6 separate regions of the Homo sapiens genome follow, and regions 1, 2, 3, 4 and 5 are each linked to region 6. The links come from fine-mapping of genetic effects on gene expression. A gene starts in region 6. Each other region holds a variant in brackets. All regions are shown on one strand. Distances are from middle to middle.

Evidence for each region. PIP is the estimated chance that this variant, and not a neighbour inherited with it, causes the effect.
Region 1: its variant is fine-mapped to the expression of SIN3B in whole blood (INTERVAL, PIP above 0.99).
Region 2: its variant is fine-mapped to the expression of SIN3B in whole blood (INTERVAL, PIP above 0.99).
Region 3: its variant is fine-mapped to the expression of SIN3B in whole blood (TOPMed, PIP above 0.99).
Region 4: its variant is fine-mapped to the expression of SIN3B in whole blood (TOPMed, PIP above 0.99).
Region 5: its variant is fine-mapped to the expression of SIN3B in whole blood (TOPMed, PIP 0.98).

What each region holds. Positions count from the first base shown.
Region 1 is chr19:16,746,320-16,750,405 of GRCh38, reverse strand. It overlaps NWD1 (NACHT and WD repeat domain containing 1), which reads right to left. Exons shown (of 19, transcript NM_001007525.5): 6 at 1-1,267. Among named protein-coding and RNA genes, the nearest start is that of NWD1, 29 kb to the right of the region's middle. The variant A/C (reference allele first, on the strand shown) is at 1,568.
Region 2 is chr19:16,800,087-16,804,172 of GRCh38, reverse strand. NWD1 (NACHT and WD repeat domain containing 1) reads right to left here. Exons shown (of 19, transcript NM_001007525.5): 17 at 4,011-4,086. All of the region lies in intron 2 of LOC124904648 (a long non-coding RNA gene), which reads left to right. Among named protein-coding and RNA genes, the nearest start is that of SIN3B, 27 kb to the left of the region's middle. The variant T/A (reference allele first, on the strand shown) is at 2,311.
Region 3 is chr19:16,866,894-16,870,979 of GRCh38, reverse strand. It overlaps SIN3B (SIN3 transcription regulator family member B), which reads right to left. Exons shown (of 19, transcript NM_001297595.2): 13 at 905-1,520. Among named protein-coding and RNA genes, the nearest start is that of F2RL3, 20 kb to the left of the region's middle. The variant T/C (reference allele first, on the strand shown) is at 1,547.
Region 4 is chr19:16,885,158-16,889,231 of GRCh38, reverse strand. It overlaps F2RL3 (F2R like thrombin or trypsin receptor 3), which reads right to left and starts at 233. Exons shown (of 2, transcript NM_003950.4): 1 at 1-233. The coding sequence starts at 42. RefSeq lists an enhancer at 2,649-3,149. The variant A/G (reference allele first, on the strand shown) is at 2,354.
Region 5 is chr19:16,718,984-16,723,069 of GRCh38, reverse strand. NWD1 (NACHT and WD repeat domain containing 1) reads right to left here and starts at 3,223. Exons shown (of 19, transcript NM_001007525.5): 1 at 2,777-3,223. The variant A/G (reference allele first, on the strand shown) is at 2,336.
Region 6 is chr19:16,827,161-16,831,246 of GRCh38, reverse strand. It overlaps SIN3B (SIN3 transcription regulator family member B), which reads right to left and starts at 1,849. Exons shown (of 19, transcript NM_001297595.2): 1 at 1,707-1,849; 2 at 1,350-1,456. The coding sequence starts at 1,826. RefSeq lists a silencer at 1,702-1,881 and an enhancer at 1,622-2,123.

The sequences.
Region 1 (4,086 bases), 81 kb after region 6:
GACACAATGTAGCCCAGCACGTGGGCCACGAGGAGCTGCCCGTGTGTCTGCTCCAGGCGGGTGCAGAGTTGGTGCGTGGCTTCCTCTGCGGTGGTGGCCAGCGGGACAGGCACGGTGAAAGAGGCCCATTTCCGGGCTTCCTCAAACGCCAGCCTCAGCCGCCCTGGGTTCCCACACTCTGGGAGGCTGGCCCAGAGCAAATCTGTGTGCACCGGGCTCAGCGTCCTCCTTGCAGCTGCCAGCAGGAGTTGGATCATCTGCTGGCCTTGGTTTCCGGAAAGGGGCTTCACCTCCCAGTAGGCCTCCGGGTCCAGGAGCACCCGCTGCAAGGTGTCCAAAACCCCCAGTGCCCCCGAGCAAGCTGAGAGGATGAGGTGCACCCTCGGGGGGCAGTTGAGAGGCAGCCAGGGAACCCTCCGAGCATGGCGGACAGAGTCCAGGTCATCCATAGCATCCAGCAGGAGCACGAGAGACTCGAAGTTTCTGCAAGAGACAGTGTGGAGGAGGGTATGGAAAAACTGGACCACCCTGGTGTGGGCGTCCAGAACCTGGGCAGGGGGCAAGGGCAGCCCATAGGCCAGGCACACCTGGAAGCAGATGCTCTTCAGCAGGCCACGGGCATCTGAGCTCATTTGTGACGTCCCCAGCAGCCGCAGGACGGTCACTGTCTTGTGCCCCAGCAGCCTTGGCATCTGCTCAGCCAGCTTGCACATCAGGGCTGTCTTTCCAATGCCTGGGGGCCCAAAGAGTACCAGGGGGGTGTGCTGCTTGCTGTCATCGTGCCTGAGCTGCTGCCCAAGCCGGGCCAGGAGTTCCTGGCGTCCGCAGAAGGTCTGAATGACCTCCGAGCTCTGCCAAAGGTGGTGGCGGATCTCTTGGTAGAGCCACGCCAACTCCTGTCCGGCCGTATCCAGCTCACGGAGGCGTGTGAGGACCTGGTGATTGGCCCTCACCACAAACTGCTCACCCAGCTCCTTCAGGTAGCAGGCGTGAGTCTTGTTCTTGGGGTTCACCAAGTCGCGGCTCCACGGCAGGCGGTGGGTCTTGAGGACCCCTGGGTGCATGTCAGTGATGTGACTTTTGAGGCTGCTGAGAAGGTTCTGGGCATCAGCGTCCAGGCAGCCATCCGCGAGCCGGTCCACCATCCTAAGGGCGCAGTCTTCAAGGATGTGTTTGTGGAGGTCTTGGATCTCTCTAAGGAAGACGGTGGCTCCCTGTTCCCGGTCCTCTGAGCTCAGCAGGCTCCGCTCTATCTCCCACTCAATGACTGCCAAAGTGGGGAAGGTGGGAAGGAAGTGTGGTCATTATTGGGTCAGCAGCTGACCTAAATGGGGTTGCTGGGAGACCTGTTGTTGGGGGATGTGCATTGGTTCTCAAGATTAACGTGCACCAGAGTCTGACCTGGGGGTCTCGAAAAGACCCACATGGCTGGACCCCACCTCCAGAAGTGATTCAGCAGATCTGAGTGGGGCCCCGGAGTTTGCATTTGCAACAAGCCAAGGCTTGCTGGTCCAGGGACTGCACCCAGAGTTACACTAGTTAAGCCATTACTCTTATTCTTCTTCTT[A/C]TTATTATTATTATTGAGACAGGGTCTCACTCTGTCACCCAGGCTGGAGTGGAGTGGCGCGATCTTAGCTCACTGCAACCTCCGCCTCCTAGGCTCAAGCGATCCTTCCACCTCAGCCTCCCGAGTAGCTGGGATTACAGGCATGCACTAGCACGCCTGGCTAATTTTTGTATTTTTTGTAGAGATGGGGTCTTACTATGTTGCCCAAGCTGGTCTCCAACTACTGAGCTCAAGCAATTCAACCTCGGCCTCCCAAAGTGCTGGGATTACAGGCGTGAGCCACTGCGCCCGGCCTGATTTAGCCATTATTAATCAAAGACCCCTCAGGGTAGGCAACACAGAGGTCCCATGTGAGGAGCAGTCACACTGTAAAACAATGCTGTCATCCTCAAAAAGTGAAACATGGAGTTACTATCACGCCCAGCAATTCCACTCCCAGGTATCTGCTGAAAATACCTGAAAACAGAGACTCCAACAAATATTAATACACCCTAGCTTGTAACAGCACCATTCACAATAGCCAAAAGACAGAAACAATCCAAACATCCATCAACGGGCTGGACATGGGGTCTCATGCCTGTAATCCCAGCACTTTGGGAGGCCAAGGTGGGCAGATCACCTGAAGTCAGGAGTTTGAGACCAGCCTGGCCAACATGGTGAAACCTTGTCACTACTAAAAATACAAAAATTAGCCCAGCGTGATGCCGCACGCCTGTAATCCCAACTACTCAAGAGGCTAAGACAGGAGAATCACTTGAACCCGGGAGGCAAAGGTTGCAGTGAGCCAAGATCATGTCACTGCACTTCAGCCTGTGCAACAGAGCGAGACTCCATCTCAAAAACAAAACAAATCAAAACAAACATCCATCAACAGATGAATGGATAAACAAAATATGGTCCTTCCACACAATGGGATACTATTCGGCCATTGAAATGGATGAAGTACTCACAGGTGTTAAAATGTGGATGAACCTCAAAAATATGATGCCAAGTGAGAGAAGCCAGACACAAAAGGCCATGTAGTGTGAGATTCCATTGACATGAAATGTCCAGAACAGGCAAATTAATAGAGACAGAAAGCAGATTGATGGTTGCCTGCGCTGGGAGAGGGGAGATGGGGAGTGTTTAATGGGTAGAGCTTCTTTTGAGGTGATGAAAATGTCTTGGAGGGCCAGGTGTAGTTCATGCCTGTAATCTCAGCACTTTGGGAGGCAGAGGCTGGACGATCACTTGAGCTCAGGAGTTCGAGACCAGCCTGTGCAAAACGGCAAAACCCCGTCTCTACAAAAAATAAGTTAGCCACCTGTGATGGCGTGTGACTGCGGTCCCAGCTACTGGGAAGGCTGAGGTGGGAGGATTGCTTGACCCCAGGAGCTGGAGGCCACACTGAGCCGTGATCGTGCCACTGCACTCCAGCCTGGGCAACAGAGTAAGACCTTGTCTCAAAAAAAATTAAATAAATAAATAAATAAATAAATAAATAAATAAATAAAAAGAAAATGTCAGCCAGGCGCGGGTGCTCATACCTGTAATCCCAGCACTTTGGGAGGCCAAGGCGGGCCGATCAAGAGGTCAGGAGTTCGAGACCAGCCTGAGCAACATGGGGAAACCCCGTCTCTACTAAAAATACAAAAATTAGCCAGGCGAGGTGGCGCATGCCTGTAATCCCAGCAACTTAGGAGGCTGAGGCAGGAGAATTGCTTGAACCTGGGAAGCAGAGGTTGGAGTGAGCTGAGATCGCACCACTACACTCCAGCCTGGACAATAGAGCAAGACTCCATCTCAAAAAAAAAAAAAAAGAAAGAAAAAGAAAATATCTTGGAACTAGACAGAGGTGGAAGTTACATGACACAGTGTTGGCCATTGAAGAACATGGGCTTGAACTACACAGGTCAAGTTTCTTCTGCCTCTGCCACCCCTGAGACAGCAAGACCAACCCCTCCTCTTCCTACTCAAGGTGAAGATGATGAGGATGAAGACCTTTGTGACTGATGATCCACTTATGTTTAATCAACAGCAAACATATTTTCTCTTCCTTGTGATTTTTGTAATAACATTTTCTTTTCTCTAGCTTACTTGATTGTAAGAAAACAGGATATGATAGATAGAACATGCAAAATATGTGTTCATCGACTGTTTTTTTTTGTTGTTTTTTGTTTTTTGTTTTTAGACAGAGTCTTGCTCTGCTGCCAGGCTGGAGTGCAGTGGTGCGATCTCAGCTCACTACAACCGCTGCCTCCCGGGTTCAAGTGATTCTCCTGCCTCAGCCTCCCGAGTAGCTGGGACTACAGGTGTGCACCACCATGCCCAGCTAATTTTTGTAATTTTAGTAGAGACAGAGTTTCACTATTTTGGCCAGGCTGGTCTTGAACTCCTGACCTCGTGATCCGTCTGCCTCAGCCTTCCAAAGTGCTGGGATTACAGGCATGAGCCACCGCACCCGGCCAACTGTTTATGTTGTTTCTTTGTTTGTTTGTTTGATACGGGGTCTCACTCTGTCACCCAGACTGAAGTACAGT
Region 2 (4,086 bases), 27 kb after region 6:
GAGCCTGCATTCTTGCTCAACCCTTTCCCCCGCCAGCCCCATTTTCTCATCTCCCTCTGGGGTTCTCCTGGAAACACCCCTCAATACATCACTTGTGCAAATATCCTCATCACAGATTCAGCTTCTAGGTAACCTGAATTAAAACAGGCCAAACGGAAACAACCAGATTGCCAACTACCTCATGCAGAAAATGTATAAAATGAAATCCTGTTTTTGACCAGCTACTTTCTTTTTCTTTTTTTTTTCGGGTGGTGGAGTCTCACTCTGTTGCCAAAGCTGGAGTGCAGTGGCATGGTCTTGGCTCACTGCAGCCTCCACCTCCCAGGTTCAAGCAATTATCCTGCCTCAGCCTCCCCAGTAGCTGGGATTACAGGCACACACCACCACGCCCAGATAATTTTTTTTTTTTTTTTTTTTAAGTAGAGTTGGGGTTTCGCCATGTTGGCCAGGCTGGTCTCCAACTCCTGACCTCAAATGATCCGCCCACCTCAGCCTCCCAAAGTTCTGGGATTACAGGTGTGAGCCACCACACCTGGCCATGACTAGCTAGTTTCCACCTGATTGAAGTTATAGGCGTGTTATGGACTGAAGATTTGTGTCCCCCTGACAAATTCCTATGTTAAAATCATCACCCTCTGTGGAATGGTATCAGGAGCTTGGGCCTGTCTTAGTTCATTGGTGTTGCTAATGAAAACCTGTTTTTGACTAGCTACTTTCTACCTGATTGAAGTTATAGGAATGTTATGGACTGAAGATTTGTGTCCCCACCCCCCCACCAAATTCCTATGTCAAAATCCTCACTCCCCATAGGATGGTATTAGGAGCTGGGGCCTGTCTAAGTCTGTTGGTGTTGCTATGAAGGACTACCTGAGGCTGGGTAACTGAGATGGTTTGGCTGTGTCCCCACCCAAATCTCATTTTGAATTGCAATAATTCCCACAGGTCAAGGCCGAGGCCAGCTGGAGATAATTGAATCATGGAGGCAGTCTCCCCCATACTGTTCTTGTGGTAGCGAATAAGTCTCATGAGATCTGATGGTTTTGTAAAGGGCAATTCCCCTGCACACACTCTCTTGCCTGCCACCATGTAAGACGTGACTTTGCTCCTCATTTGCCTTCTGCCATGATTGTGAGGCCTTCCCAGCCATGTGCAAATGTGAGTCCATTAAACCTCTTTCCTTTACAAATTACCCAGTCTCAGGTATGTCTTTTTTTTTTTTTTTTTTGAGACAGAGTCTGACTCTTGCCCAGGCTGGAGTGCAGTAGCAAGATCTTGGCTCACTGCAATTGCCACCTCCTGGGTTCAAGCGATTTCTGGCTAAGTTTTGGAATTTTAGTAGAGACAGGGTTTTACCATGTTGGCCAGGCTAGTCTCGAACACCTGACCTCAAATGATGCGCCTGCCTTGGCCTCCCAAAGTGCTGGGATTACAGGTGTGAGCCAGCAGGCCCGGCCTCAGGTATGTCTTTATTAGCAGTGTGAGAACAGACTAATACAGTAATGCATAATTATGAATAAGAGGTTTATGTGGCTCATTGTTCTGCAGGCTGTACAGGAAGCATGGTGCCAGCTTCTGCTTCTGGTGAGGGCCCCAGGCTGCTTCTTCTTAATACAAAAGGTGAAGGGGGTTGGGGTGTGCAGAGGTCATACGGCCAGAGGAAGCAAGAGAGAGGGAAGTGCTAGCTTCCTTTTTTTTTTTTTTTTTTTTTTAATTGAGATAGGGTCTTGCTCTGTCACCTAGGCTGGAGTGCAGTGGTGCAATCACAGTTCACTGCAGCCTCAAATTCCTGGGCTCAAGCGATCATCCTGCCTCCATCTCTCAAGTAGCTGAGACTACAGGTGAATATCACCATGCCCAGCTCATTATTTTTATTTTTATTTTTATTTATTTATTTATTTTTGAGACAGAGTCTTGCTCTGTCACCCAGGCTGGAGTGCAATGGTGCTCAATGCAACCTCTGCCTGCCGGGCTCAAGCGATTCTCCTGCCTCCCTCCTGAACAGCTGGGATTACAGGTGCCCGCCACCACGTCCGGCTAATTTTTGTATTTTTAGTAGAGATGGGGTTTCACCATGTTGGCCAGGCTAGTCTTGAGCTCCTGACCTCGTGATCCACCCAACTCAGCCTCCCAAAGTGCTGGGACTACAGGCGTGAGCCACCATGCCCGGCCATTATTTTTATTTTTATTGCGACAAGGTCCATGTTGCCCAGGCTGGTCTTGAACTCCCGGCCTCAAGCAATCTTCCTGTTTCTGCCTCCTGAGTAGCTGGGGTCAGGTTCTTTTTAACAACCTCGCGAGAACTAACAGAGT[T/A]AGAACTTACTCACCACCACCACTGCCTTGCCAGGAGAGGGCATTAATCTATCCACGAGGGATGTGTCCTTATGACTCAAACACCTCCCGTGAGGCCTCCCTCCAACACTGGGGATTAAATTTCTTTTTTTATTGTTGTTTTGTTTTCAAACAGGGTCTTGTTCTGTCGTCCAGGCTGGAGTGCAGTGGCACAATCTCAGCTCACTGCAACTTCTGCCTCCTGGGCTCAAGTGATCCTACCACCACAGCCTCCCAAGTAGCTTGGACTACAGATGTGAGCCACTACACCGAGCTAATTTTTGTCTTTTATGTAGAGACGTCTGGTCTCAAACTCCTGAGCTCAAGTGATCCGCCCACCTCAGCCACCCAAAGTGCTGGGATCACAGGTGTGAGCCATCACGCCTGGCTTTTTTGTTTGTTTTTAGAGACAGGGTCTCACTCTGTCACCCAGGCTGGAGTGCAGTAGTGCGATCATGACTCACTGTAGCCTCAACTTCCCAGGCTCAAGCGATCCTCCCACCTTAGCCCCCAAAATAGCTAGAACAACAAGCACATGCCACCATATCCAGCTAATTTTTTTTTTGAGACAGAGTTTTGCTCTTGTTGCCCAGGCTGGAGTGCAATGGCGTGATCTCGGCTCACTGCAACCTCTGCCTCCCAGGTTCAAGCTATTCTTCTGCCTCAGCCTCCTGAGTAGCTGGGATTACAGGCATGCACCACCACGCCCAGCTAATTTTGTATTGCTTTAGTGGAGGTGGGGTTTTTCCATGTTGGTCAGGCTGGTCTCGAACTCCCGACCTCAAGTGATCTGCCTGCCTTGGCCTCCCAAAGTGCTGGTATTAGAGGTGTGACCCACCATGACTGGCCACATCCAGCTATTTTTTAAATTTTTAGTAGAAATGGCATCCTCTCATCTTGCCCAGGTGTTCTTGAACCCTAAGCTCAAACAATCCTACTGCCTCGGCCTCCCAGAGTGCTGTGATTATAGGTTTAAGCCACCATGGCCAGCCGGATATTAAATGCCAACATCTGGTTTGTAGGGCCAAACCTCCGAACTGTAGCAGAGTGACAGGGAAGTGATTAGATCATGAATGTGGGGCGTTCCTGAATAGGATTAGTGCCCTTATAAGAAGAGACACAAGAGATTTCTCTCTCTCTCTGGGGACACATCAAGAAGATGGCCATCTGTGAACCAGGAAACGGGTCCTCACCAGACACGAGATCTGCTTGCACTTTGATCTGGAACTTCCCAGCCTCCAGAATGTTGAGGAATAATGTTTCTTGCTTATGCCACCCAGTCTATGGGGATAATTTATTTTATTTTATTTTTCTGGGACAGAGTCTCACTCTGTCGCCCAGGCCGGAGTGCAGAGTCAGGATCCCGGCTCACTGCAGTCTTCGCCTCCCAGGTTCAAACAATTCTGCCTCAGCCTCGCAAGTAGCTGGGGATACAGGCATGTGCCACCATGCCCGGCTAACTTTTGTATTTTTAGTAGAGACAGGGTTTTGCCATGTTGGCCAGGCTGGTCTTGAACTCCTGACCTCAGGTGATCCACCCGCCAAGGCCTCCCAAAGTCCTGGGATTACAGGCGTGAGCCATGGGGCCCAGCCTGTGGGGATGATTTGTTACAGTAGCCTAAACTAAGACAGATGGCTCCAAGCCTTACCCACAAAAATGACCATACTTATACCTTACCAACCTTCTGCCAAGTCCCAAATAGTGACTTTGTTTTTGTCCCCAATTTTGGGGAAGTAGACGTAGCTTCCATTGTGGGA
Region 3 (4,086 bases), 40 kb before region 6:
GTGGCCCATGCCTGTAATCCCAGCACTTGGGGAGGCTGAGGCAGGCGGATCACCTGAGTTCAGGAGTTTGAGACCAGGTTGGCCAACATGGTGAAATCCTGTCTCTATTAAAAATACAAAAAATTGGGCTGGGCGCGGTGGCTCATGCCTGTAATCCCATCACTTTGGAAGCCCGAGGCAGGTGGATCACAAGGTCAGGAGTTTTAAGACCAGCCTGGTCAAGATGGTGAAACCTCGTCTCCACTAAAAATACAAAAAAAAAATAACCGGACATGGTGGTGGGTGCCTGTAATCCCAGCTACTCAGAGGCTGAGGCAGAGAATTGCTTGAACCTGGGAGGCGGAGGCTGCAGTGAGCCGAGATCATGCCACTGTGCTCCAGGCTGGGCAATAGAGCAAGACTCCATTTCAAAAAAGAAATACAAAAAATGAGCCAGGCATGGTGGTGAGCGCCTGTAATCCCAGCTACTTGGGAGGCTAAGGCAGGAGAATCACTTGAACCTGGGAAGTGGAGGTTGCAGTGGGCCGAGATCCTGCCACTATACTCCAGCCTGCGCAACAGCGCAAGACTCCATCTCAAAAAAAAAAAAAAAGAAAGAAAAAGGGTACTGTGGAGCTGGGCCATGACGGCTCCACGAGAAAGCCCATGAGAAACAAATGTTCCCCAGTCAGGAGAGGGTGCTACACCCAGGACAGGTGCCACGGCCAGGGGAGCCTGGGCGAGGGGTACGTGAGACCTCTGTCTTATGCTGGCAACTTCCTGTTTGCAATTTCCCATTTGAAATCACAGAATTCTCTTAAAATGAAAAGCCAGAAAGAAAAGTAACAGGACATGTCAGATCATGAGCTGTGACCCCTAACCCCAGGCACCCCCCGGGGCCTCCCGGCAGGCTTTGGAGCCTTACTGGGCTGCTTCAGCCGCAGCTCCATGGCGGGGTCGCTGCCCTTCTCCCTGCGGCCCTCACACAGCAGCTTCTCCCGCTCCTTCTCGGTCCGATACTCCAGAAGCTGCTTCTGCGCCTGGCGGTAGATCTTCAGCAGCCTGGAGCACAGGGTCTGGTGCAGGCGCAGGAAGAAGTACCAGTTGTTGTTGGCAAAAAATAGGCTGTAGACATCGTCCAGGGGCTTGTGCGGGGCTGGGGGCGGCAGGGGTGGCTGCTCAGTGGCCGGGGCATCCCCGAAGGCCCCCTTCTCCTCTGGGGGGCTACTGTGGGGTCCTGGCGCCGGCTTCTTCCGCTCACTGGGGTCTGTGGTCTGCCCCTGGGGGCTGTCCCGGTCCTCATCAGCTGACTCCTCGGAGGCGCCCAGGTCCAGCTGCTGAGAGAAGAAGAGGCTGGGCACGAACTGGTGCAGCAGCTGGTGGATGGTGCCCTGGTCCTCCTTCTGGATGGCCGGCTGCCGCTTCACGTAGTAGCTGATGAGCGCTGCTGCGTCCTCCAGGATCTGCCGGTCCTCGTACACAAAGATGAGGTGCGGCTCGCTAGAGGGGGCACTGCGGCCCTCCGAGTGCTGCTCCTGGTGCTGTGGGGGGAAGGGCGGCCATTAGG[T/C]GGAAAGCCACCCAGCACCCAGAGGACCCCCAGTGCCCATTCACGACTCGCTGTTAACTGGGCCACCAAGGTGGATGAGCGCTGCCCAGAGCAGGATGGGTGGCGAACATCGGTGAGGCAGCAGGGCCTGGGGGGTAGGTCGCTTGCCTCAACCTCTTGTGCAGCCCCATGTGCTCCTGGTCCCCTCTCCGAAAGTGAGGCAGACCCAAGTCATCCCGGGACCCCAGACAAAGGAGCCAAGAGGATTCTGAGATGTGGGGCGGGGTTCACAGGGGGTCTGACAGCGTCAAGCCTGGGTCTGTCGCTCAGCCCAGCTCCAGGACAGAACGGGGCCCCGTGGCTCAGCATGGAGAAGCCTCTGAGGCTGACCTCCTCCTACTGAAAGCAACGGTGGCGCCTGATTCCAGCTCGACCGGGGCTGCCCACACCATGCTATCGATGAAGTCAAGGAGGCAAAGGGTGAGCCGTGACCTCTCTGCCTCTGCCCTCCATCTACTACCCGGAAGGCCTGCAACTGCTCACATCTGAAGACCTGCACGCCCATCGTCACCAAGCCCCCGCCTCCGCTGCTGTCCCCGCCAGCCCCTGCACGTGCTTGCTACCACCATCATGTCACCAGCCCTCCCACCAGCTCCCACCAGCCTGCTCCAACCACTCTCCTCACTGGGTCCAGGGTGACTTGGCCCACAGGAGCATGGTCACCCCAACTAATGCCCTTCAGGCTTTCCCAGGCTGCTCAGAAGACGCCGGCCCCTGATGTGCCCCTCCACAGCTCCTCCAGCCTCACCGCGCCAAGCTCCCTCCTGCGTGTGCAGGGCCTTTGCACATGCCCATCTGCTCTCACTCCCTGGAAAACCCTGTCCCAGGCTCACCCCTCCCCTTGGTCTTTATCTAGATCATGACTTTCATTCCCTCACACCATTAGACAATCACCCCTTCCTCCAGCCTCCCACACCACTGTCCTGGCACCCAGGGCCTCTGCTGGGCAGCCCCAACCCCCTCAGTCCAAGGCAGGGAGGCAGACGCAGCAGGGCTCTTGGGGAAAATGAGCGTGGATGCCATCTCTGCAGGCTCCCGAGGGAAGGACCGGGTCTCCTAGCAGCCTGAGGTTTCCCTTCCTCCTCCCCTGCAAGGCGGCTTAGAGGCTGGTAGGGCCAAGCACACTGACCTGGTTCCTAGGAGTCTGCACGCTCAGCCCTGCTCTGGGCTCTTCAGTGTGACCATCGCCCTCTGACTGCTTCCTAAGTCCCCCAGGTCTCATTTATGCCATAAACACTCTGAAAATTCCTTTACAGTCCCCTCTGAAGCAGGGTCCCCATGTCCATGATCTGTAACCATGCTTTGTAAATCACGTGATGGAATGGGGTTCTGACTTTGGAATTCATCAAGGACCTGCATGTGCAGAGATCTGCATATGAACCTTGGTGCCCCTCCCTTTGTCAGCCCCAGCCCCAGGGAGGGATCCAGGAACTCAGGGTCGCATTGGTGGATTTCCAGGGCTACTTCATCATCTGCACTTTGCAGACACCACAGACCCACAGAACCTATACGGGGTCTTGGGCTTGAGGATCGCCGAGGACTAGAGTGAGGAAGCCAGAGTGGTTGTGGGTGGGCCTGGGGCGAGGGTGGCCCACGGGAAGGGAGGTGGGAGGGAAGGGGGTCCCCACAGTCCCACAGGCTCTGGGAGAGGCCTTGGGCCAGCAGCCCGGCTCCTGTGGATTCCGTTTCTGTGTTGTAAAAGAAGGAGCGACCGCTCACTGTGCAGTGACAGGAGCAAGAAACCAAATCAGGTGAGGCAACACCCCCTGCCCAGGTGGGCACCAGGCTGATAACGCAGCCCGTGCCATGATCTGGGCACTGCCTGGGGAGTAGTGTGCCCTCCTAAGCCACCTCCTCAGAGTGTCCAAGGACCTTCCCGACAGCTGGCTATCACCACGCCCGGCACCCTGCCAAGCTTCCCACCTCAGGATCCTGCAAGCAGGCACTCCCTACACACAGCTACTAACAGGCCCAGCTCCTGGCAACCTGAGGGCCCCGCTGGCCTTGGTTCTATGACTCAGGCCTTGTGAGCCTGCAGTGAGGACATGCAGCCGAAAGCCTCGAACCCAATGACTCAGAGCCCTGGCCCCCTGCGACCAGCCCAGGCAAATGCAACCTCTTGTGCCTCAGTTTCCCCACTGGTAAAATCAGAATAATGCCGCAGCAGAGTCAGGTTCAGGAGTGAGGTCAGATGATGCATTACTCTTTCTGTGTTGCTAACACCGGTGCCTGGCACAGTCGGCAAGAAAGAAATGAAGGCTGCTGCCACCCACTACCTAAGCCAAAGTCCATCACTGCCCCACGGGAGGGACGGAGACTTCGCTAGACAATGGCAGAGTCGGCCAGGAGCGGTGGCTTACGCATGTAATCCCAGCACTTTGGGAGGCTGAGGTGGGTGGATCACGAGGTCAGGAGTTCAAGACCAGCCTGGCCAACATGGTGAAAACCCATCTCTACTAAAAATATAAAAATTAGCTGGGTGTGGTGGTGTGCGCCTGTAG
Region 4 (4,074 bases), 58 kb before region 6:
GAACCCCAGCACCAGGGGCCACAGGAGCAGTCGCCCCCACATGACTGCACTCAGGCTGCTCTGGGCTGTGGCCTCAGGCTTCCTGCCTCGCCGGACCCTGAGCCCCAGCTTCTGGAGCCGAGGCGGACGAGCAGATCGCGCCGGTAGAGATAAACCAGGAAGGCTGCCCCTGCCCCCGCAGACCCACCAGGGCCGCTTGCCAGCCAGCCCGTGGGAGGACTGGAGTGTGGGTTATGGAGACCGGGCTGCCCCACGTGGCTATATCCAGTGTGGCGCCTCCCAGGGACCCAGGTGCCAGGCCAGCAAGATGCAGGGGGGGGGGTCCCAGCTGCAGCCAGCACCCCCGGTCCCTGACCAGCCCAGGAAGCATCTGCGGTTCAAGTGGCCACTTCCTGCCAGCCGCTCACATCTGCAGCCACTGTTCTCACGACAGCCCTGTCCTCACCCCAATCCCCACGCCCATCACGGGCTCTGGGCCTTTCCTGAAGTCACCCCCCGACTTCCTATCTCTGGTGAGCAGGATAAGAAGAGCCCTGCTAGGCCAGGCACGGTGGCTCACGGCTGTAATCCCAACATTTTGGGAGGCCAAGGCAGGCAAATCACCTGAGGTTGGGAGTTTGAGACCGGCCTGACCAACATGGAGAAACCCCATCTCTCATAAAAATACAAAAATTAGCTGGGCTTGGTGGCAGATGCCTGTGGTCCCAGCTACTCAGGAGGCTGAGGTGGGAGAATTGCTTGAACCCAGGAGGTGGAGGTTGCAGTGAGCCGAGATCTTGCCACTGCACTCCAGCCTGGGCAACAGAGCGAGACTCGGCAAAAAAAAAAAAAAAAACCAAGGATGGGCGCCTCCCAGAGGGTAATAGCGAGGGTCCCTTCAGACCCCCAGAGCAGCACGAGCCCAGCGTCAGGGACTCTGGCTGAACCTCGAGAGCCCCTCAGCATCCTCGGCTGACCCCATACTCACAAGGCACCCCTGTATGAGTGCCTCACTTCACTCTTGCCCAGGGGACACACGGGCATCTGTAGGGGAGACAGTGATGCTGGGGACAGCACCTGCCGAGGACCGGGGGGACTTCGGGGTGTGTGGCTCGCCTGCTCTGACCTCTGACCCTGAGTGAGGTGGCCAGGTTGAAGGGTCCCCAAGCCAGCCTCCAGGGGGCCTCCCTCCTCTAGCCCCAGCACATCCCCACTCCTGGGTACCATTGGATGGGGGCTCATCGGGCAGATGAAGAAACTGAAGCTCGGGGGGGTACCCCTTCCCTCTTCTGCACAAGGCCCCTCAGTGTTGTCCCTCCCTGCCTCAGAGAGGCCTCAACCCGTCGTGCCCTGGGGGAGTCTGGTATGGGTGGTTCTGGCCCCAGTGTGCTCAGCGCTGGGCTACAGGGGATGGGGGACAGGGCTTGGGGGGGTCTGGGAGCAGGAGGGCCTAGTTGGGAGCCATGAGGATTGGGGAAAATAAAATGAACTAGGGATGGGGGAGGGAGGGGTCCAATGTGGCCGTTTCCTGCCTGGGGGAGCCCTAATCTCATCACACACTTGAGCACTCGGGGATCAGCCAGGAAGTGACTGAGCAGAGTCTTGGACAGAGTCAACACCCAGCTCCAGGAGGAGACACTGAAGCCTGGAGAGAGAGTCTAGCTGGGGCAGGGTCTCAGAGGCCCTGCTCCCATTTCTGGGCAGTTTCCATGGCCACCAATGAGAAAATCAGCTTCACGTCAATGACTTGGGGAAAAAGGTGGCTGAGGACACCCTCAGCACACGGAAAACCCACGCCTGGGCTCCCCCCTCCACCGTCTTCTCTGTGAGCAGAGTGGGAAGCTGTGCAGGGGAGGCTGGGCACACCGGCAGTCCAGTGATGCTGGGGCAGGGTGGTTTGAAGATGATGCATCAAAATAGTGATGCACGACCGGGCGCAATGGCTCACGCCTGTAATCCCAGCACTTTGGGAGGCCAGGTGGGTGGATCACGAGGTCAAGAGATCGAGACCGTCCTGGCCAACATGGTGAAAACCCGTCTCTACTAAAAATACAAAAATTAGCCAGACATGGTGGCGCACGTCTGTAGTCCTAGCTCCTCAGGAGGCTGAGGCAGGAAAATCTCTTGAACCCAGGACGCAGGGGTTACAGTGAGCTGAGATCACACCACTGCACTCCAGCCTGGGCAACGGAGCGAGACTCCGACTCAAAAAAAAAAAAAAAAAAAAAAAAAAGCCAGGCACAGTGGCTCACACCTGTAATCCCAGCACTTTGGGAGGCAGAGGCGGGTGGATCACCTGAGGTTGGGAGTTCGAGACCAGCCTGACTAACATGGAGAAACCCCATCTCTAGTAAAAATACAAAATTAGCTAGGC[A/G]TGGTGACATATGCCTGTAATCCCAGCTGCTCGGGAGGCGAGGCAGGAGAATCACTTGAACATGGGAGGCAAAGGTTGCAGTGAGCCGAGATTGCATCATTGCACTCCAGCCTCACTCCAGCCTGGGCAACAAGAGTGAAACGCGTCTCAAAAAAAAAAAAAAAACATAGTGACGCACATGCCCTTATACTCAAGGGTTCCATGTCTAGGAATTTCTGCCAGACACACGCACAGGAAGATGTCCTTGGGAGGATATCCACACAGCAGCACAAAGCAGGGAGGTGCCCGCCAACAGCCCCTCCCCGGGAACAACACGGCAGCACAGGCTGTCGGGGGAACCCCAGCAAGCAGAGGTGACGATGACATTGCCCCTGTCAGGCACAAGCTGTACCCAGGCGACACTGCCCAGGTACTTCCCGGAGGACGCTGGGCGCGACAGCTTTGGAGGAGAGGAAACCATGTGTCTGTTTTGTACTGTTGGAGTTTTCTGTGCACTGTGTTACTTTCCATAAAAACTTTTTTTTTTTTTAAGATGGAGTCTCGATCAGTCGCCCAGGCTGGAGTGCAATGGCGCAATCTCAGCTCACTGCAACCTCTGCTTCCTGGATTCAAGCAATTCTCCTGCCTCAGCCTCCCCAGCAGCAGGGATTACAGGCGCCTGCCACTATGCCCGGCTAATTTTGTGTATTTTTAGTAGAGGCGGAGTTTCGTCGTGTTGGCCAGGCTGGTCTCAAACTCCTGACCTCAGGTGACCCACCTGCCTCAGCCTCCCAAAGCACTAGGATTATAGGCATGAGCCACTGCACCTGGCCAAAATATTTTTTATTTAGAGATGGAGGTTCGCTCTTGTTGCCCAGGCTGAAGGTGCAATGGTGCCATTTCGGCTCACTGCAACCTCTGCTTCCTGGATTCAAGCGATTCTCCTGCTTCAGCCTCCCGAGCAGCTGGGATTATAGGCACCCGCCACCATGCCTGGCTAATTTTTGTATTTTTGGTAGAAACGAGGTTTCATCATGTTGGCCAGGCAGGTCTCAAACTCCTGACCTCAGGTGATCCACCCGCCTCAGCCTCCCGAAGTGCTGGGATTACAGGCGTGAGCCACCACGCCCGGCCAAAATCTTATTTTCTTAAAAAGGGCAGACAGCCAGGCCGGGCTGTTTCAGAGTGGTGGCTCATGCCTGTAATCCCAGTGCTTTGGGAGGCCGAGGTAGAGGGATCGCTTGGGCTCAGGAGTTCAAGACCAGCCTGGGCAACATAGTGAAATCTTGTCTCTACAAAAAATCAAAAAATGAGGTGGGAAGATTGCTTGAGCCCAGGAGGTCGAGGCTGCAGTGAGCTGTGATTGCACCACTGCACTCCCACCCGGGTGACAGAGTGAAACTCTGCCAAAAAAAAAAAAAAAAAAAAAAAAAAAGGCAGCCTTAAAAAGTAAGGGAATTCTGACATATGCTACATTGTGGATGAATCTTGAGGACATTATGCTGAGGGAAATAAGCCGGTCACGGAAAGACAAATCCTGAGTCATTCCACTCATGGGAGGTCCCTGGAGTGGTCACCTCCATAGAGACAGGAAGTAGAATGGGTTGGGGGGTGCCAGAGGCTGGGGGAGGGGGATTGGGGAGTGAGTGCTTAAGGCCACAGTGTTTCAGTTTTGCAAGATGGAAGAGTTCTGGGCTGGGTGAGGTGGTTCACGCCTGTAATCCCTGCACTTTGGGAGGCCA
Region 5 (4,086 bases), 110 kb after region 6:
AAAATAAAATAAGATCAGGCACAGGAAGAGGCATCCAAGGCAGGGTCCAGAAGAGACCAGGTGTGAGATTTCAGTCGTCCCCTCCCAGTGAAGTTGTATGGCCAGCACTTAAATCTCCCAGCAGTGATGTGTGACAACATGAACAGTTTGCCACCAACTAGGAAAGCTCTCCTGAGCCTTGGTGTCCGGGGTTTTTATTGGGAGTTGGTCACGTAGACATGATTGACCACCAGCATAGCTGACCTTAATCCCCAGCCCCTCCAGAGGTCAACCAATATCACGTGACTTAAAGCTCCCTCTCTAAGTCATGTTGTTAGTATCTAGTGTGAGCCAAGGCTCTCCAGGTAAACAAAGACACCCTTATCCCATTCCAAGGGCTTAGAGGTCACTTCCCAGGAGCAGGTCAAGAGCTACAGCTTTAATGTGTGGGGTATGGACAACTCAGGCCTGCTGAGTTAATTCTTTTTTAAGAGTGAGGGTCGGCCAGGCACAGTGGCTCACATCTGTAATCCCAGCACTTTGGGAGGCCAAGGTGGGCGGATCGCCTGAGGTCAGGAGTTTGAGACCAGCCTGGCCAACATGGAGAAACCCCGCCTCTACTAAAAATACAAAATTAGCTGGGCGTGATGGTTCATGCCTGTAATCCCAGCTACTCAGGGAGGCTGAGGCAGGAGAATTGTTTGAACCCAGGAAACGGACATTGCAGTGAGCTGAGATCGCACCATTGCACTCCATCCTGGGTGACAGAGCAAGACCGTCTCAAAAAAAAAAAAAGTCAAGTCTTGCTCTGTCGCCCAGGCTGGAGTGCAGTGGCACTATTGTGGCTCACTGCAGCCTCCATCTCCTGTCCTCAAGTGATCCTCCCACCTCAGCCTCCTGAGTAGCTGGGATTAACAGGCACACACCACCATGCCTAGCTAGTTTTTTAGTTGTTGTTGTTGTTGTTGTTTTTTTCAAGAGACAGGGTCTCACTCCATTGCCCAGATTAGAGTGCAGTGACATGATCATAGCTCACTGCAGCCTTGAACTCCTGGACTCAAACCATCCTCCTGCCTCGGCGTCTCAAGTAGCTGGAACTATAGGCATGTGCCACCATGCTAGGCTTAAGTTTTTTATTTTTTGTAGGGACGGGAGTCTCACTGTGTTGCTCAGGCTGTTCTTGAACTCTTGGCCTCAAGCCATCCTCCTGCCTCAGCCTCCCAAAGTGCTGGGATTAGAGGCATGAGCCACCACGGGCAGCCAGAGTTAATTATTTTCTCAGCAGTAAAGGCCCAGTAAATAGAGTTGAGCGTCACCATTCAACAGATGAGAAAACTGCAGCTTAGAGTGAGAACTTTCTCACCAGCTAGAAGGGCAGAGTCAGGGAGCGAGTGCGGGTCAGACCCCCTCTCCTCCACGGACCCCGCCCCCATAAACCCAGCCCGGCCCCCCAGCCACCTTCCCACAACTCACCTGGATACCACAGTTTAGCTGCAGCCTGCTGATCTCACTGAGGCCCCAGTTCTGGGTCCCAGCATCTCTCCAGACCTCTCTTAGCACCTCCTCCCCAATCTTCTGATCTTGAATTTGCCTCCACCACAATTTCTGTTCCTTCTCTCGTTTTCCTGGGTCCCAGCAGGCTCCTTGGACCCGAATTCACTTCAGCGCCTGGCCACGCTCCCTTGGTTACTGCCTGCTGATGATCGCAGGAGGATAAGAGTCTTTGACCTTGCCTTTCACCTCTAGGCTTTTTCCTAGTCTCTCTCCCAGACTTCCTCCATCTCAGTATGACAAACATTTGAGGCCAGATCATCCTCTGTGGTGGCAATTGTCCCATGCATTTTAGGATGTTGCAAAGCATTTCCGGCCCCCACCCACTAGATTTCAACAGCACACCCCCACCACCACCACCAAAGTCGTCACAATTAAAAAGTATCCCTAGGCTGGGTGCAGTGGCTCACACCTCTAATCCCAGCACTTTGAGAGGCCAAAACAGGCAGATTACTTGAGGCCAGGAGTTCGAGACCAGCCTGGCCAACATGGCGAAACCCCATCTCTACTAAAAATACAAAAATTAGCTGGCGCGGTGGCATGTACCTGTAATCCCAGCTACTCGGAAGCCTGAGGCAGGAGAATCGCTTGAACCCGGGAAGCAGAGGTTGCAGTGAGCCGAGATCGTGCCACTGCGCTCCAGCCTGGGCAACAGAGCAAGGCTCCATCTCAAAAAGAAAAAGTCTCGGCCAGGTGCGGTGGCTCACGCCTGTAATCCCAGCACTTTGGGAAGCCGAGGAGGGCAGATCATGAGGTCAGGAGATCGAGACCATCCTGGCTAACACGGTGAAACCCCGTCTCTACT[A/G]AAAATACAAAAAATTAGCCGGGCATGTGGCGGACACCTGTAGTCCCAGCTACTCAGGAGGCTGAGGCAGGAGAATGGTGTGAACCTGGGAGGCAGAGCTTGCAGTAACTGAGATCACGCCACTGCACTCCAGCCTAGTGACAGAGCGAGACTCCGTCTCAAAAAAAAAAAAGTCTCCCTAGACATTGCAATGTCCCCTAGGGGGCAGAATTCCCCTTACTCGAGAACCCCCTAGTCTAATGCATTTAGCTTATTTCAACCTCAGGGCCTTTGCACGTCCTGTACTTTAGTGCTCTATGCTGCATCTGTTCATGTTGTTCACATTTTAGCTTCAATGCTACCTCCTCCTGAGAGGCTGTCTCTGACCATCCCATTGCGTAGTGACCCCTTAAGTCACTCCCAATGCCATCGCCTTATTTTAATTTTCTGCATGGTACTCACCAACAGCTGATATGTTTCTACATGTTATTGTTTGTCTGTCCCACGAGAAAGTGAATTCCATGAGCCCAAGGATCTTGTCTGGTAAGGCTGGCGTGCCTGGCACATAGTAGGTGCTCAGTAAATTATCATCACAACAGCTTCCTCCACAACTGTTTCTCTTTCTGGACTTCTGTTTGTTGCTGAAGAAGACAGCTGAGCAGGACTGGGCTTCCCCAGTAAGGACAGAGGCCCTTTGCAGTGTCAGCGTTCTGGCTGTCCTGGGGGCTCCAGCCTCTCTTTAGCCTTTGCTGGTAGTTGAACGACCAATTTAGACTCCTCTGGGGAAATAGGTTAGAGAGGACAGTTTCCTGGCCTCGGCGCCACCCGGAAGACAAGCCCCTGGCTATCCTAGTAACTTTCGTCTTAGGTATTTTATGGGTCTCTCCTTGCCCAATTCTCCCAGCAACTGGGATAATGAAAGCGATTGTTTGCACTAGGGCACCAGCTTAGCCGGGCATTCAGCCCAGACTTAGTGGTTAACTATTGTGTGCCAGGCTGATACGGCTCCTCGTAAAAGATGCCATTTGCTGACAGTCTAGGAGGTGCAGTTGGTTGGCATTTGGCATTAGCAGTCCACATTATTACCCCAAGAGACAGACATTATGATCCTGTTTCACAGATGAAGAAAACAAGATGCAGAAAGGTGAAGTCCCTTGCCTGTGACGCTTCACTACTCTGCACTTGAATTTTCTCACTAACTTCCTGTGTTGGTGAGACAATGAAAAGCATTTATATAGAGAGTGAGACTAACACTACACCTACATCACAGGAAGGGCCCGTGAGATGTTAGCCATGATTAATTACCATTAAAACTCCAAGACCGGGCACGGTGGCTCATGCCTGTAATCCCAGCACTTTGGGAGGCCGAGGCAGGCGGATCACCTGAGGTCAGGCATTCAAGACCAGACTGGCCAATATGGTGAGACCCCTATCTCTACTAAAAATAGAAAAATTAGCTGGGCGTGGTGACGCATGCCTGTAATCCCAGCTACTTGGGAGGCTGAGGCACAAGAATTGTTTGAACCTGGGAGTTGGAGGTTGCAATGAGCCGAGATCCTGCCACTGCACTGCAGCCTGGGCGACAGAGCAAGACTTTGTCTCAAAAACTCACAAATCACCCGGGCATGGTGGCTCACGCTAGTAATCCCAGCACTTTGGGAGGCCAAGGCAGGCAGATCACGAGGTCAGGAGATCAAGACCATCCTGGCTAACACGGTGAAACCCCGTCTCTACAAAAAAAACAAAACAAAACAAAACAAAAAATTAGCTGG
Region 6 (4,086 bases):
TACTAAAAATACAAAAACGAACTTGGAGTGGTGGTGCGTGCCTGCAGTCCCAGCTACTCAGGAGGCAGAGGCACAAGAATCACTTGCACCCGGGAGGCGGAGGCTGCAGTGAGCCCAGATCACACCACTGCACTCCAGCCTGGGCGACAGCACGAGAATCCATCTCAAAAAAAAAAAAAAAAGTGCCCCCATGTGATAGCATCTGTACACCATGACCTATCTCCTGACTGGCTAGGCCTGAGCTCCCTGTTCCCTCCTGGTGAGAACCAGAGAATACTGACATCGCTCAGCTCCCCTAAAACACTCCAAGAATGGGTACTCGGTTCTGAAAATGTCAGGAGAGCCAACCGCAAGGCCTGGACTCCAAGAAATGGCAGGAGGCCAAAGTCCTCTAAGCAATGTGAAAACTTCCCTCATTTTGTATCAGATAGAGATGACTATGACACAGGTTTCCATCTGAGCAAACAATTGCAATGCATAAATACCAATGGTACTGCCAAGAATGGGAAAGGTGTAAGAAAAATAGGAGGGGAGAGATGGGGTCTCCCTTCTGGCTGCATTGCAGCCCAGCCCTTAGCACTGGGCTCCCGGAAGGAAACCAGGCCAGCCCCACCATGTTTCCTAAGAGGGGGCAGCAGTATGGTAAGCATGTGACTTCCAAGAATCTGAGTCAGAGGGTCTGAGTTCTAGTGACACCTCTGCCACTTAGGTGGGTCCCTTACCCACTCCAAACCTCAGTGAGTCTCCTATAAAAACAAGGGCATGATCCCAGGGTTTCCCATCTATCTGTAATCTTCCTTGATTCTGGGCCTGCAAAATCATCTCATGTGTTTTAAACGTTTTCTGTGTGCCAGCTCCCTTACTAAGCATTTTATGCGTCTTACTTCCAAGCAGGCCTGGGACCACAGTGAGCCCAGAGAAGCATCTTGAGGACAAGATTAAAGGGGAAGAGGGTGCCAAAAATTTCAATCATCAAGACAATAACATTTTACAGCGCTTGAAAATAAAAATCAAAATGGGTCCCACCAAATCTTTCATGAACAAAACTAATATAAAAATCAACATATTAAATCAAGGCAGGATTTGACTCTATGAGTGTGCACGGCCTCGCCCTCCCTGCCTCCCCCCAGATCCCTGTCCTGCTTCCAGGAATCCCCACAAAGCTCCACAAGGTGGGTACTACCCATTTCCATTTTTGTTACGAGAAGGAGCTAGGGCTCTGAGAGATTGGACAACCTGCGCAAGGTCACCCGGCTAAGGGGGCAGGCTGGAGAGGGGAGGTCTCACCCCGCTAGGCCCGATTCCGGCCCAGGGGGGTCCCCTGAGGTGGAGAGGGGCCCCGCTGGTACCTCTGGCTTTTGAACTCCTTCATGATCTCCAGGAAGCCGTTGTAGGTGGCAGGGTCGCTGCCAAAGCGGATCTTCACCTGGTCCAGATAGGTGAGGGCGTCTTCTACCTGCAGAGAGGGGGAGGGTCCCGGTGGGCCCTGGCCGCGGAACGAGGGGACGAGGGGCCGGGGTCCCTGAGGGGAAGGGGATGGGCTGGGCTTTCGGAGGGCCGAGGTGAGAGGTGAGGGGTGAGGGGTCCGGGGCAGTGCAGAGGGGAGGCCGAGGTGGGGCTGGGGCCGGGCGGGGCCTGGGTGAGGGGCGCCCGCCCGCGGGGTCCAGAAGATGGGTTCCCCGAGGGAGGGCGGGGACGCCACTCACGTGCACCGGCAGCTTCTCGTGGCCTGCGGAGCCCGAGCGACCCCAGCGGGCGCCGCTCAGCCCCCGGCCCGCGGGGCCGCCGGCACCGCTGCCACCGCTGCCACCGCCAGCGTGCGCCATGTCCGAAGTCGGAGCTGCGCCCCGCCCCGCCCCCGCCCGAGGTCCTGCCGCGCATGCGCAGCCTCCGCCTTTGGAGGCGGGGTTTGATGACGTTGAGGGGCGGTGCTCTTTGAGGGACTCTTCTGAAGACCTTCTCCTTAAGATTGGTATCATAATTAATGATTTATATAGCAGGGGTAGGCGAGCCAAGACCCGCCGCCTACTTTGTCCGGCCCCGCAAGCTCAGAATTATTTTTACATGTTTACATAGCCGGGGGAAAAATCCAAAGAAGAATAGTCTATGACCTGTGAAAAGTTTGTGAAATTCACATTTGAGGGTCCCTGAATAAAGTTTTATTAGCACACAGACACGCCCACGCGTTTACCTGGCTTCTCTGCCTGCTTTCGCCTTACAACAGAGTAGGTAGTTGCTAAAGATCCTACAGATCTGCAGACCCTGAAGTATTTACGATCTGGCCTTTTATGGAAAAAGTTTGTTGGCCCCTGCTTTATAGAGTTGACGGGACGATGAGGTATGAGCCCCCAGCGCCCTAATATAGGGCCTTGCGTGGTGAATTTTTGCTAAATGGCCTTTAAGTTAGTCCTACTCCTCCCATCTTCACTTCCCTATCCTTGGCCCCGTCACTTCCCATCTGGACCAGTTTAGGAGCCTCCTAACTCTGGTACTTTCTTTTTTTTTTTTTTTTTTTTTTTTTTTTTTTGAGACAGAGTCTCGCTCTGTCGCCCAGGCTGGAGTGCAGTGGCGCGATTTCCGCTCACTGCAAGCTCCGCCTCCCGAGTTCACACCATTCTCCTGCCTCAGCCTCCTGAGTAGCTGGGACTACAGGCGCCCGCCACTGCGCCCTGCTAATTTTTTGTACTTTTAGTGCCACCCCACCTGGCTCTAACTCTGGTACTTTCTCAGCCCTGATACTATCAAGAACTCTAGGCTGGGGATGGTGGCTCACGCCTGTAATCCCAGCACTTTGGGAGGCCGAGGCGGACGGATCACGAGGTCAGGAGATAGAGACCATCCTGGCTAACACGGTGCAACCCCGTCTCTACTAAAAATACAAAAAATTAGCCGGGCCTTGAAAAAAAGAAAAAGAAAATGAAAAAATTGGCTGGGCGCCGTGGCTCACGCCTGTAATCCCAGCACTTTGGGACGCCGAGGCGGGCAGATCACCTGAGGTCTGGAGTTGGAGATTAGCCTGACCAACATGGAGAAACCCCGTCTCTACTAAAAATACAAAATTAGCCGGGCTTTGTGGCGCATGCCTGTAATCCCAGCTACTCGGGAGGCTGAGGCAAGAGAATTGCTTGAACCCGGGAGGCGGAGGTTGCAGTGAGCCAAGATCACGCCATTGCACTCCAGCCTGGGCAACAAGAGCAAAAACTCTGTCTCAAAAAATTAATTAATTAATTAATTAAATAATAAAATAAAATGAAAAAATTAGCTGGGCGTGGTGGTGCACACGTTTAGTCCCAGCTACTCGGGAGGCTGAGGCAGGATTGCTCATGCCCAAGAGTTCAAGGCTGCAGTGAGCCATGATCTTGCCACTGCACACCCCAGCCTGGGAAGCATAGCAGTGCTTTTTTTTTTTTTTTTTTTTAAAGAGCATCTCATCTCTTAAAAAAAAAAAAACAGAAAAACAAAAAACTCCACTTTTTCCACCACTCCTTCCAAACCTCCAAGGTCTTCCTATTTCTAATGAGATGAAATCTAAGCACCTACATTGCAGGCTGTCAGAATTGGTCCTTAGGAACCTTTTCCTGCAGGATTTTCCAAGCAAACTGCCTGCCTCTGTGCAGAACTTCACACAATTGCCTGACCAACCTGGCTGCTTCCTGGTCCCAAGCATTGGCACTCACCATTTCCTTTGCCAGAAGTACTGTCATGCCTCTTTGTTATTCAGAAAACACCTATACATCCTTCTAAACGCAGCCCAAATATCCCTTTCCCTCAGGAAGTGTTCCCAGTCCCCTTCTATGTCTCCCCTCAGTCCCTTGTATTTCATATTTGTTTTGTGTCCGTCTCTAATACAAATCCCTGACACAGTCTCTCAGTCAGCATTCATCAAATAAGTGAACGTTCAATTAATGACCAAGTGCTTTCTCTTTTTATAAGTGAAGAGGTGCAGGAAAGTTGAGAGTAAATTGGCATCGAGTGCATCATTTACCAGGCACCTTGCTAAGTGTCAGGAATAGAATGGTAAAAAGGAACGCAAATTTGGCCGTTAAGAGCTTTTAGTCTCTCAGGATAGACAGGAATCTAGTAATC